2 separate regions of the Homo sapiens genome follow, and region 1 is linked to region 2. Evidence: fine-mapped expression QTL. A gene starts in region 2. The other region holds a variant in brackets. All regions are shown on one strand. Distances are between the middles of the regions.

Evidence for each region. PIP is the estimated chance that this variant, and not a neighbour inherited with it, causes the effect. A credible set is the group of variants that fine-mapping cannot tell apart.
Region 1: its variant is the best candidate, but not a certain one, in a credible set for the expression of FAM133B in whole blood (INTERVAL, PIP 0.67).

The regions. Positions count from the first base shown.
Region 1 is chr7:92,504,304-92,509,687 of GRCh38, forward strand. It overlaps PEX1 (peroxisomal biogenesis factor 1), which reads right to left. Exons shown (of 24, transcript NM_000466.3): 9 at 5,026-5,108; 10 at 2,691-2,823; 11 at 1,945-2,041; 12 at 429-599. Among named protein-coding and RNA genes, the nearest start is that of PEX1, 22 kb to the right of the region's middle. The variant T/C (reference allele first, on the strand shown) is at 2,456.
Region 2 is chr7:92,587,164-92,592,547 of GRCh38, forward strand. FAM133B (family with sequence similarity 133 member B) reads right to left here and starts at 3,227. Exons shown (of 11, transcript NM_152789.4): 1 at 3,105-3,227. The coding sequence starts at 3,128. LOC105375397 (a long non-coding RNA gene) reads right to left here. Exons shown (of 3, transcript XR_927744.3): 3 at 4,857-4,985. RefSeq lists enhancers at 2,955-3,014, 3,105-3,384.

The sequences.
Region 1 (5,384 bases), 83 kb before region 2:
CAATCCAAGAAAGCCAAGAAAGGGCTGGCTACTCATACACAGTAGCCATCATTATTAGTATCGTTCTGCGCTAATACTGTTCACCCTTCTTTTTCTCCTAGAATTTGAGAATACAGACTGTGCACAAGCATTTGACAAATATTTGTCAAATGAACAAAAGAGTAAATCTGTAAATTAAACAATAAGTAAGGGAGAATGAAAAACCCTAAAGGACTAACCATGAAGTTGCAGAATTTTCACACTGTTTTTACTCTACCAATTTTGCTATTACAGTCTATAGGACAACTGTAGAATGCCATCAGGGGCCTCAAACACAACACTTAACATAACACATATATTATTCTCTGAAGAGAGTAGATTTATTGTTAAGACTAAAAATGCTGACTGACAAAAGAACAAGACCTTAAGCCAGTGGTGGATGCATTTACCATGAGCAAGCCGCTGGCTCTGCACCGCATCAGGACTGTGCTCATGTTCCGGGACAGCAGGCAGTCCAGCAATGAGGTCAAGGTCATCCAGCAGGACAACAGATGGCTGCATCCACACTGCCTCTGAGAAAGCCACCTCTAGGGTTTTTTGTATGTTTTCAAGCCTTTTTCCTTAATACAGAAGATATGAAATGGTTTCAGTATCATTTCAGTGCTGGGAAAATTCAGGTTGTCCTTTTGAAAGCACTAGAAAAGCTCGATATTGATTTAACTATAAAAATTTGATCTATATTTTATTAATATACCCATCACAAAAACTTGTTCATCAACATGGTTCAATTAATACAGTCTCAAAGCGTGCAGTAAAGTATCAAATTTTATAAAACTCAGAAAAGGAGGCCAGGTGCAGTGGCTTATGCTAGTAATCCCAGCACTTTGGGAAACCAAGGCAGGCAGATCACTTTGAGGTCAGGAGTTTGAGATCAGCCTGGCCAACATGGTGAAACCCCATCTCTACTAAAAAATACAAAAATTAGCCAGGTGTGGTGGCATGCACCTGTAGTCCCAATTACTCGGGAGGTTGAGGCACGAGAATTGCTTGAACCTGGGAGGTGGAGGCTATAGTGAGCCGAGATCGCACCACTGCACTCCAGCCTGGGCTACAGAGCAAGACTCTGTCTCAAAAAAAAAAAAAAAGAAAAAAGAAAAGGAATATGCTACTATAATTCCTGTATGCATGTATTCATTTATACCCAGTTTCATCCCATTGAGAATTTTAGATGGCTTACAACAAAATAAAAAAAGTAGGATGTGGGAAAACATAAGTGAGAGTAAGGGATCAAGATTCATTTAAAATCAAATGCAAATGCATCTGCCTAGAGATCCTGGAGTTGCTATATTTGAAACACAAATTTGGCTTCAAACTTCCTGGTGAGTTACAAAGTTTAAATTTACAAAGAACAGGAAATACACAAGTTCATGATTAGTTGGAACTATATGACAGCGGTACCCATGGGGGAAAAATTAACTGTTCAAAGTAAAATCTTCCCAATATTTTTTAATTGAATAGATAATAATGTAAATGTTAAGGACTTTAAAAGTACAAAAGTGTTATATGGTGAACTGTAATTCTCCTCATTGCTGTCCACAGCCTCCTACTTTCTCTCCCCTGAAGCAACCATTCTCCCAGTTTTCCATAGCAATTCAGAGATCATTTATACCAATTAGAGTATATTCTAAGTACTAATTTTTCAGAGTGGTGTCAGTGAGCACTTCCAGAAATGTAGTCTACAAAAAGTTCTGGCTAGAAAAAAAAATAGGCCTCCATTAAATATGGAGAGTTTTAGAAATTTTATCAAAAACATTAGAAAGCCAAAGAAATTTTAATGACTAAATGATAAACAGAAAAGTTAAAGACTAGATGATATGTGTATTTATTAGATTGACAGCATTATGTATAACATTCCTGTCTTTCTAATGAAAAAGGGATTTATATAGAGTGTTACCATACTCATACCTCGTAAAGCTTTACAGTCAACTCTCTCCACATGGGCATCCAGTTTGTCAAATGCTTCTTTACAGATTGCTTTGGCTAAAGTTGATTTTCCACTTCCCTAGAAAATAATTGCTTTATAGGAATTCCCAATATATTCAGTCACAGAAATAGTTCCTGTCATTGTGGCAACCACCAAGATTCAGCCTCAATTTTATACAACCTCTTCCAAAAAAACAAAAGAAGAGGAGAGAATACTTCCCATCTCATTTTATGAGGCCAGATTTACACGGATAGCAAAACCAGACAAAGACAACACAAAAACAGAAAACTGCAAACTAATCACTTTCAAACTTAAATGGACAAAAGCTCAACAGAACATTAGCAGATAAAACTCAGCAATGTAGAAAGAATGATACACCACAACTACGTGGTATTTATCACAGGTATGCAAGGCTGGTTCAACATTTGTAAGTTACTCAACCCTATCAACACCTAATAGCCTAAAAAAGAAAAACCATATAATTGTATCAAC[T/C]GACACAGAAAAAGGGCATGGAGAACATCAGTCTTATTCGTCATCACTCCCCCAACACCTAAAAGCAGACACACAGAAATATTAGTGAATAAATGAATGCTTTCCATATGTCGTATAAACCCTATATAATAGATGGTCAAAACCCACCCTATATAATAGATGGTCAAAACCCAAAGAAAGATAAATGAAAAGTTATTAAATGTTACAGAAAAATGAACACACCTTAACCACTTACCTTTCCTCCTGTGAGTAAAAGAGCTCCATTCCTAAGTCCTGCAACAAGAGACATCAGCTGCCGAGACAAAGGGCGTCCCAGGAGGCTGTGAGTGATGTGCTCCAAGGAGGATACGCCTAAGGAATTCACTCCTCTGTAAAAAATATACATAGTTACATGATAAAAGACTGAAGCAGGATAAAATTTAGCTATAAAAAAATGCTGAATTTTGCCTTCCCAGTGTAGTTAATTAATTTAATTTAATTTTTTATCTTTTTTTTTTTGAGAAAGGGGCTTGCTGTGTCATCCAGGCTGGAGCGCAGTGGTGTGAACCCAGCTCCCTGCAGCCTCAAACGCCCTGGCAAAGGTGATCCTCCTGCCTCAGCCTCCCGAGTAGCTGGGACTTCAGGAGTGTAACACCACACCCAGCTGATTGGGTTTTTTGTGTGTGCATTTGTTGTAGAGACGGGGTTTTGCCATGTTGCCCAGGCTAGTCTCCAACTCCTGGGCTCAAGTGATCCATCTGCCTCGGCCCCACAAAGTGCTGGGATTATAGACACAAGCCACCATGCTCAGACTAGTTAATAAATTTTAAAAGACTAAAATCTTAGAAATTGTCCCCTACTTGAGAGAAAGTATACTGATTAATGTCGAATCTGACTTCAAGCTTTTTTTTTTTTTTTTTTTTGAGACGGAGTCTTGCTCTGTCACCCAGGCTGGAGTGCAGTGGCATGATCTCGGCTCACTGCAACCTCTGCCTCCCAAGTTCGAGCAATTCTCCTGCCTTAGCCTCCCGAGTAGCTGGGATTACAGGTGCCCACCACCACACCTGGCTAATTTCTGTATTTTTAGTAGAGACAAGGTTTCACCATGTTGCTCAGGCTCGTCTCAAACTCCTGACCTCAAGTGATCCACCCGCCTTGGCCTCCCAAAGTGCTGGAATTACAGGTGTGAGCCACCGCGCCCAGCCTCCAAGCTTTTAAAATTAGTTTTATTACTTTTAAAATATGCAGTTACTAAAAGTTTTGCCCTAATAGAACTCCTTAAGGAATCTTAACACATAAAAAAACACCTCTAGCCCCCAAATGATTTAGTTTAGTAATCAACATAATCATAAATGGGTGCTTTTGAAGTACTGAGGATAACTAAAAACTTATTTTCTCTTAAACATTACCTATGAAATCCAGTATCAATCTGTAGATTATATTTTACAAACATGAACTTTAAACTACTTCTTGACTGTGACTGCCTGCCACTTTACATGATCACATGAGAGTCTGAAGAGATTTTACTTTATGCTGGGCACAGTGGTTCACGCCTGTAATCCCAGCACTTTGGGAGGCTGAGGCAGGCGGATCACTTGAGACCAGCCTGGCCAACATGGTGAAACCCCATCTCTACTAAAAATACAAAAAATTAGGCAGGTGTGGTGGTGCATGCTTGTAATCCCAGCTACTTAGGAGGCTGATGCGGAAGGATTGCTTGAACCCAGGAGGCGGAGGTTGCAATGAGCTGAGATTGCAACACTGCACTCCAGCCTGAGTGACAAAGTGAGAGTCCATCTCAAAAAAAAAAAAAGAGATTTTATTTTATATTAATAAACACTGTGCTATAAACATTTTGACTTTATCGTTTAATCCTTTTACTAAAACATTTACAGATTATACCATTCTAAGAAATCAAATCCCTACTACTACATCTACCAAAGCTTCTGTGGAGACTTCTAAGAGGTAGTGTTTATAAGAGATTCTCATATTATATAAGAAATATGGAAATTAAGAGGAGTTTAAAAAATATTTTTTATATTTTATCTAGCCCTACTTAATCAAAAGAGGAATTTTTTAAATATTTGTTTTAAAAGTTGAGAAAAACACAAATAATCCAAATTATTACAGTAATACAAGACAGTGAAGGAATAACTTAATTTGAAATATTTTTAAACATTCAACTAATGTTTTTGGCTTTAACTTTTAAAATGTATTTATTTGTTCTAAGAATTATTGTTTTATTCAAGCATATATGATCCACGTGATATCTAGTTGCTTTCTTCTCATCGATCAATTCTCAAAGTAAAATTTCTAATAAGCTTCAGACTTCTTGTTATCGAAGAAGACAAGGTTATCCCCTACCACCAGGGATGGATAAAAACATAAAAATAAAGAGAAAAAAAAAAAGACGACAAGGCAAATTATAAGCTAGGCGTGAAGATAGAGACAATCCTTGAAAAAATATCTACTGATGCATTATTAAGATCACTTATTGACATTAACATCTACTTTAATATTTACATTGAAAACTCTGCCAGATATAGTGTTAAAAACATGTCTAACATGCTAGTTTGGCCATAACTTCTTACCCCAAAGAGCTCAGCTTTAAAAAAGGAAGAATAAAGTCAATTTCCTCACTGTTTTCTTCTTTTACCATAGGATCTAGAAGGACCTACAGTTGCAAGGAAAAATCAGTTTTACATTTCAAAGTATGTCTTTTGCATGTTTTTCTCGGGTCCCAGAAAACTAAATTGCTGATTCTGTTATACCAGAGAGAATAAATTATGCATGCAAGATCATTATTTAAACACCCTTGACAATAACAATGTACCCATCCAGGGAATATAAATATTTATGGTCAACAAGCAGAAAGAATGTTATTGCCTTAATACATTTTACAGGTATATTTTTATCTATAATTTTGATTTGTGTCACAATTATCCTTTTC
Region 2 (5,384 bases):
GTTCAACCTGAAATTCACTGGGGCTTTTTTTGGAAAGCAATCCTATCATCTTTAAAACTATGATTGTTTCATCAATGTAAGAAAGAACAGGAACTGTTTTTGAGACAATCTCAAAAAATGCCAATATTTTCACAAGCAAATATTCATTTTGTTGCTCCAAATCAAGTGTTATGGCAAAACTATGGAGTCAGTAAAAAGATCAGTGGTTGCCACACTTGGGGACAGGGGTGGTAGAGGAATGGCTAGGCCGAAGAGAGGATTTTTACTCTTTATGATACTATATTGGTGAACGCATGTGGTGGCACTCCTGTAATCCGAACACTTTTGGAGGCCGAGACGGGAGGATTGCTTGAGGCCAGGAATTTGAGACCAGCCTGGGCAGCATGGTGAAACCCCATCTCTACAAAAAAACAACAAAAAATTAGCCAGGTGTGGTTCCACACACCTGTGGTCCCAGCTACTTGGGAGGCTGACGTGAGAGCATCCCTTGAGCCTGGGAAGTTGAAGCTGCAGTGAGCCATGATGGCGACACTGCACTCCAGCTTGGGCAAGAGTGAGATACTGTGTCTAAATAAATAAATAAATAAATTTATTTGTCCAAGCCCATAGAGAATGAACACTAAGAGTGAGCACTAATGTAAACTACTGACTGGATGATAGTAACATGTCAATGTAGGTTCATCAATTTTAACAAATGTACCACTCTGGTGAAGGATGTTCATAATGGGGAGGCTATGCACGAGTGGGGTCAGGAGGTAAACGGGATATCTTTGTACCTTCCTCTCAATTTTGCTGTAAAACTAAAAATGCTTAAAAAAAAAAGTCTTAAAAAGAAAATCAAGAGTTAAGATGTACAGAATTGAGTGTCAGATGACTGAAGTTTTGGTCCCAGTTTAAAGTCTTACCCCTCCTCTATGCAATGAGGAGACTGAATTAGACAATCCGTGTCTTCTACCTCTTAATTTCTTGTTCTTAATCCCAATCTTTGAAGTGCACACAAAATGTTACCAGAATACTCTGTGCCATAGCTGCATACCAAAAGTAGTAAGTAGAGCCCAGAGCTATCAAAATGTTCTAGTAAATGAAGCTAATTTGGTAAGTTTTTCAAATGTTTTAGAGGAATGTTTCAACCAAAACGTTTTTTCAGTAATATGAAACATTTTAGGTCTGTATATGAAACTGCATCCAAGGTCAGGTGATCTCTAAACATTCAAGGCCCAAGGGTATTAGAAGAGCCCAAAATACTCAAACACCTAAGGATGCTCCTATGCTGAAATGGTGTTATGCTACATAATTTCAACGCCATGACAATCAAGATAGCACAACAAAGTCTCACCTACAGCCAGGAGAAAGAACAACCCGCTATCTTGTAATCAAGATTCACTACCACAGTGGTTCCTAGACATTTTCCATTATAAAGACTATACAGAACTACAAAGTTTTTAAGATGGTGAAATGGTTTGGATCTGTGTCCCCGCCCAAATCTCATGTCGAATTGTAATCCCCAATGTTGGAGGTGGGGCCTGGTGGGAGGTGACTGGATCATGGGGGCGGAGTTCTCATGAATGGCTTAGCATCCTCCTCTCCCCAGCACTGCATAGAGATGATTTCTCAACAGATGCGGTTGTTTAAAACTGTGTAGCAACTCTCCCCGTCCCTCTCTTGGTCCCGCTCCTGCCATGTAAGACGCCTGCTCCTGCTTTGCCTTCCACCATGAGTAACAGCTCCCTGAGGCCTCCCCAGAAGCAGATGCCGCTAAGCTTCCTGTACAGCCCATAGAACCGTGAGCCAATTAAACACTTTTCTTTATAAATTACCCAGCCTCAGGTTTTTCTTTATAAAAGCCATGCAAGAACTGGCTACTACAGATGGCAAGTGTCATCATTTCGTAAATGTTAAGTCTCCTTTGGTGTGAGACACACACAGCTTGCAAATAATTGTTGAATAAAAAAGCGAGTTCAAGAAACGTAGCACATTCGTTTTACGTGCATTTTCCTCATTTTGCTACTCAGTGGCTAAAACTTTGTCACAGGCAAGCCCAGAAATTGTCAGGCTGCAACCTAAGCTTATTGTTATTTCATTATGTTTACTACTCATTCAATCTGATTCATAACCTGAGTTTTTCAGCCCCCTCCCCGCCCCAGCGGTCTAGAATACTTTCCTCCCATCTCCGCTTCTCAAAAGCACCTTTTCTTTTGAATGCCTTTAGAATCTCTAACAACTATCAAGGACCATTTCCTACTCTTTCTGCTGTAAGTTATTTATGCATCTCTTTTATCTCATTCACTAGAGTAATAATTTTCATGCCCAGTACTCGCTCACACATCTTGCCTTTTGTGATTTCAATTAATCTGTAAGGTTGTAGATAATAATGATCCCCTTTTATAAACGACGGCACAGAGAAGAAAAGTAACTTGTTCTAGGTCACCCAACTTCCGACGGAACAAAACTGACATTCCAGTTTTGTGTTGGACTCGAAAGCCAACTATTTTCACGCCATTCATTCCCTCACAGTGTCTATGGGGGCCAGGTCCTACAGGGCGCTGGAGACACGAAAGCAAATGCTGCCATCCCATTTTCAAACGGGAGCCTGCTTGTCGCTAAAACCAGGCGCGCTGCTGGCTCTCCGGCACAGGGACCGCGTCGAGGCCTCTGTGCCTCCCTCCCACTTGGGTGCGCAGGAGAGGGGTGCGGACCTGGGGCGGCCGATACCAAGGGGCGGGTGAGTCGGATGCGTCCAAGGGCCTAAGTCTTCGGAGTTACATGGCGGGGCCAGGTGTGGGGGGGGTTCCCCGAGCCCTCGCGGTTCTAAGTGGGCACTGGGGGCCCGCGTACAGCAGGCAAGAGTGCAAACCAGCAGCGCCAGAAAGAGCGACGAGGTGAGGGAAGAAAAAAGGGGCGGGCAAGAGAGAGCTGGGAACCCTAAAGCGCCAACTGCGTGCGCGGCGCACGCGCATCTGGGATCGGCGGAGGGTGCTGGGTCTCCAGGCCCCACGTCTGAGGGCTGCCGCTTGCCCTCCGGCCCGGCCGGGAACAGCGAGGGTTCTCGCTGTCCTGCCGCCGGGCCCTGCGTCGCCCCACTGTTTTCCCGGCTGAGTACTCACCACCCGATTGTCCCGCTTCCCCATGGTGCTGGATCGAGCGCACAGTAGCACGCCGAGGGAAACCGGGCCGGAGAGACTGCCGAAGAGGGCCTGCCGCAGGTCCTCTTGCCGCCTCCCCACTCCGCCTAGAGAGCGGCACCACGCGGACTCGACGGCCGCGCTCTGCTACAGCGCCCCCTATCTCTGTGGAGGACAGGCCGGCTCCAGAGATCGCTGCAGTTGGCGGAGCGCCTGCAGGAGTCCGGTCGTTCATTAGGCACCCAAGAGCAGGCGACGCTGCGCTTCTGCACCGGAGCCCCACCAAGGCAGCTCGCTTCAGTTTGGCCTTGGATTGTTTTGCTTTCTTCCATTCTTTTTTTTTTTTTTTTTTTTTTTTTTTTTTTTAGACAGACTCTCGCTCCGTCGCCCAGGCTGGAGTGCAGTGGCACGATCTAGGCTCACTGCAGCCTCCACCTCCCGGGTTCAAGCGATTTTCCTGCCTCAGCATCCCGAGTAGCTGAGATTACAGGCGGCCGTCAACACGCCGGGCTAAATTTTTTGTATTTTTAGTAGAGACAGGGTTTTACCACGTTGGCCAGGCTGGTCTATAACTCCTGACCTCAAGTGATCCGCCCGCCTCGACCCAAAGTGCTGGGATTACAGGCATGAGCCACTGCGCTTGGCCTTTCTTCCATTCTTGATACACTGAAATACTCATTCGAGGGGACACAAAGATTCTCCCGATGCTTATTTTGTGCTTGACAGAGTGCAAGTGCTGGGGACAAAGTGAGGACCAAAGAGCCTTGGTCCCTCACGGAGCCCATCAGCTGGTGGGGGGAAAGGCAGTGCTGTCATAGACGCTGCTAACGAAATCACCCTTTAATTTCAATCCCATTCATTCATCACCTGTGCATTCATTTCACACTAATTTTTGAACATGTAGTTTGTACAGTTTTCACTAACTGGGTGGCTGGAAGCTGGAGCTGGGTAGGGCACAAAGATGATTAAGAAAAATCCCTATCGTCAAGGAGCCTGTTTATAAACTCGTAAGGGCAATAAACACACACAGGGCCAACTTTACTGCATAGCATATCGTAATATTGGCACTACTGCACTGCAACTTTAAGGAAGATGATCTGGGCTCCAGAGAAGATAATCATATTTAGTAAGTATTTATAGATAAAGCGACCCCTCTGGGTTCATCTTAGCAAGTATCATTAGGAAGTAGTTGAAAATCAATTAGGATCTTCTCCGGACTCTTGGAAATGGCAAAATGGGAATTACACTAATTACATACAAGAACATGCTTTAAAATCATCTTTCCCGATCTCTGCCTCCCTCCCTCCCTGCATTTTTCATGCTACACTATATGACAGATGCTCCCAACTACCATCTTCTGTCTCAAAACTTTTCCAAACTCTCACATGCAGTCCTTGGTGGTTCTGCTCCCTACTAAGTGTTGATTCTTCCTCAGTAACCCACTTTCCAAAATGAGGCCTCCAGTCTCTCATTTCTCCTCCTCCTCCATTACCCCCGACTTAAGCTGGGGACTCTGACTGAAGACAGGCTTCTTTTTATACACAAGAGGAAGAGGAGAACCTATTAATATTAAGTTATTCTTTCTTTCCTGGCTTATTTTTCATGTTTTAAATATTCTAGGCATTTGACAGATATTATTTTTAATACTCCAACATGATAAGCATGATAATACCTGTGAGAGAATATAGTTTTTTTTTTCCCTCTTCAGCTCCTTCTTACCTTTCACTTCCTTGGTTGGCTGATTGTACAGAACACAGAGATTTTTAAAAATATGGTATAAGTCAACAGAAAGGTTGTGTTTCCTTTAGAAGTCTCTCTCTCTCTGCGAGTGTACACAACCCCTCCTGGATGAAACGTGAATCCCTGGGGGGACAGAGAAACAAGAAAATGACCAGGGGCCTGTGAAGATAAGGAAGATGGCAAGAGCTATCGGGAGCTCATCTGAGTGGACTACATAAAGAACAAATCAGTCCAAGACTTCTCAGGATATAATTCAGTGACAGTAGAAATCTTTACACATTCTCTGCACATGTGTGATCTGCTAATAAATACATTTCTGTCCTAGCAGTGGGCCTACATGCCCTCCCGAATGTTCTAGGCATAACCAGGAGATTACATTCCATTTTGTGGATGAGAAAAACCGAGGCGAAGGGAAGCCGAGTAATTTGTGCCAGCTTCCACAGCAAGAAAGCAGAGAAGCTGGGGATTCAAACACAGGTGTGTCAAACATGAAAGCATTTACAAGATGCAGTCTCTATTAAA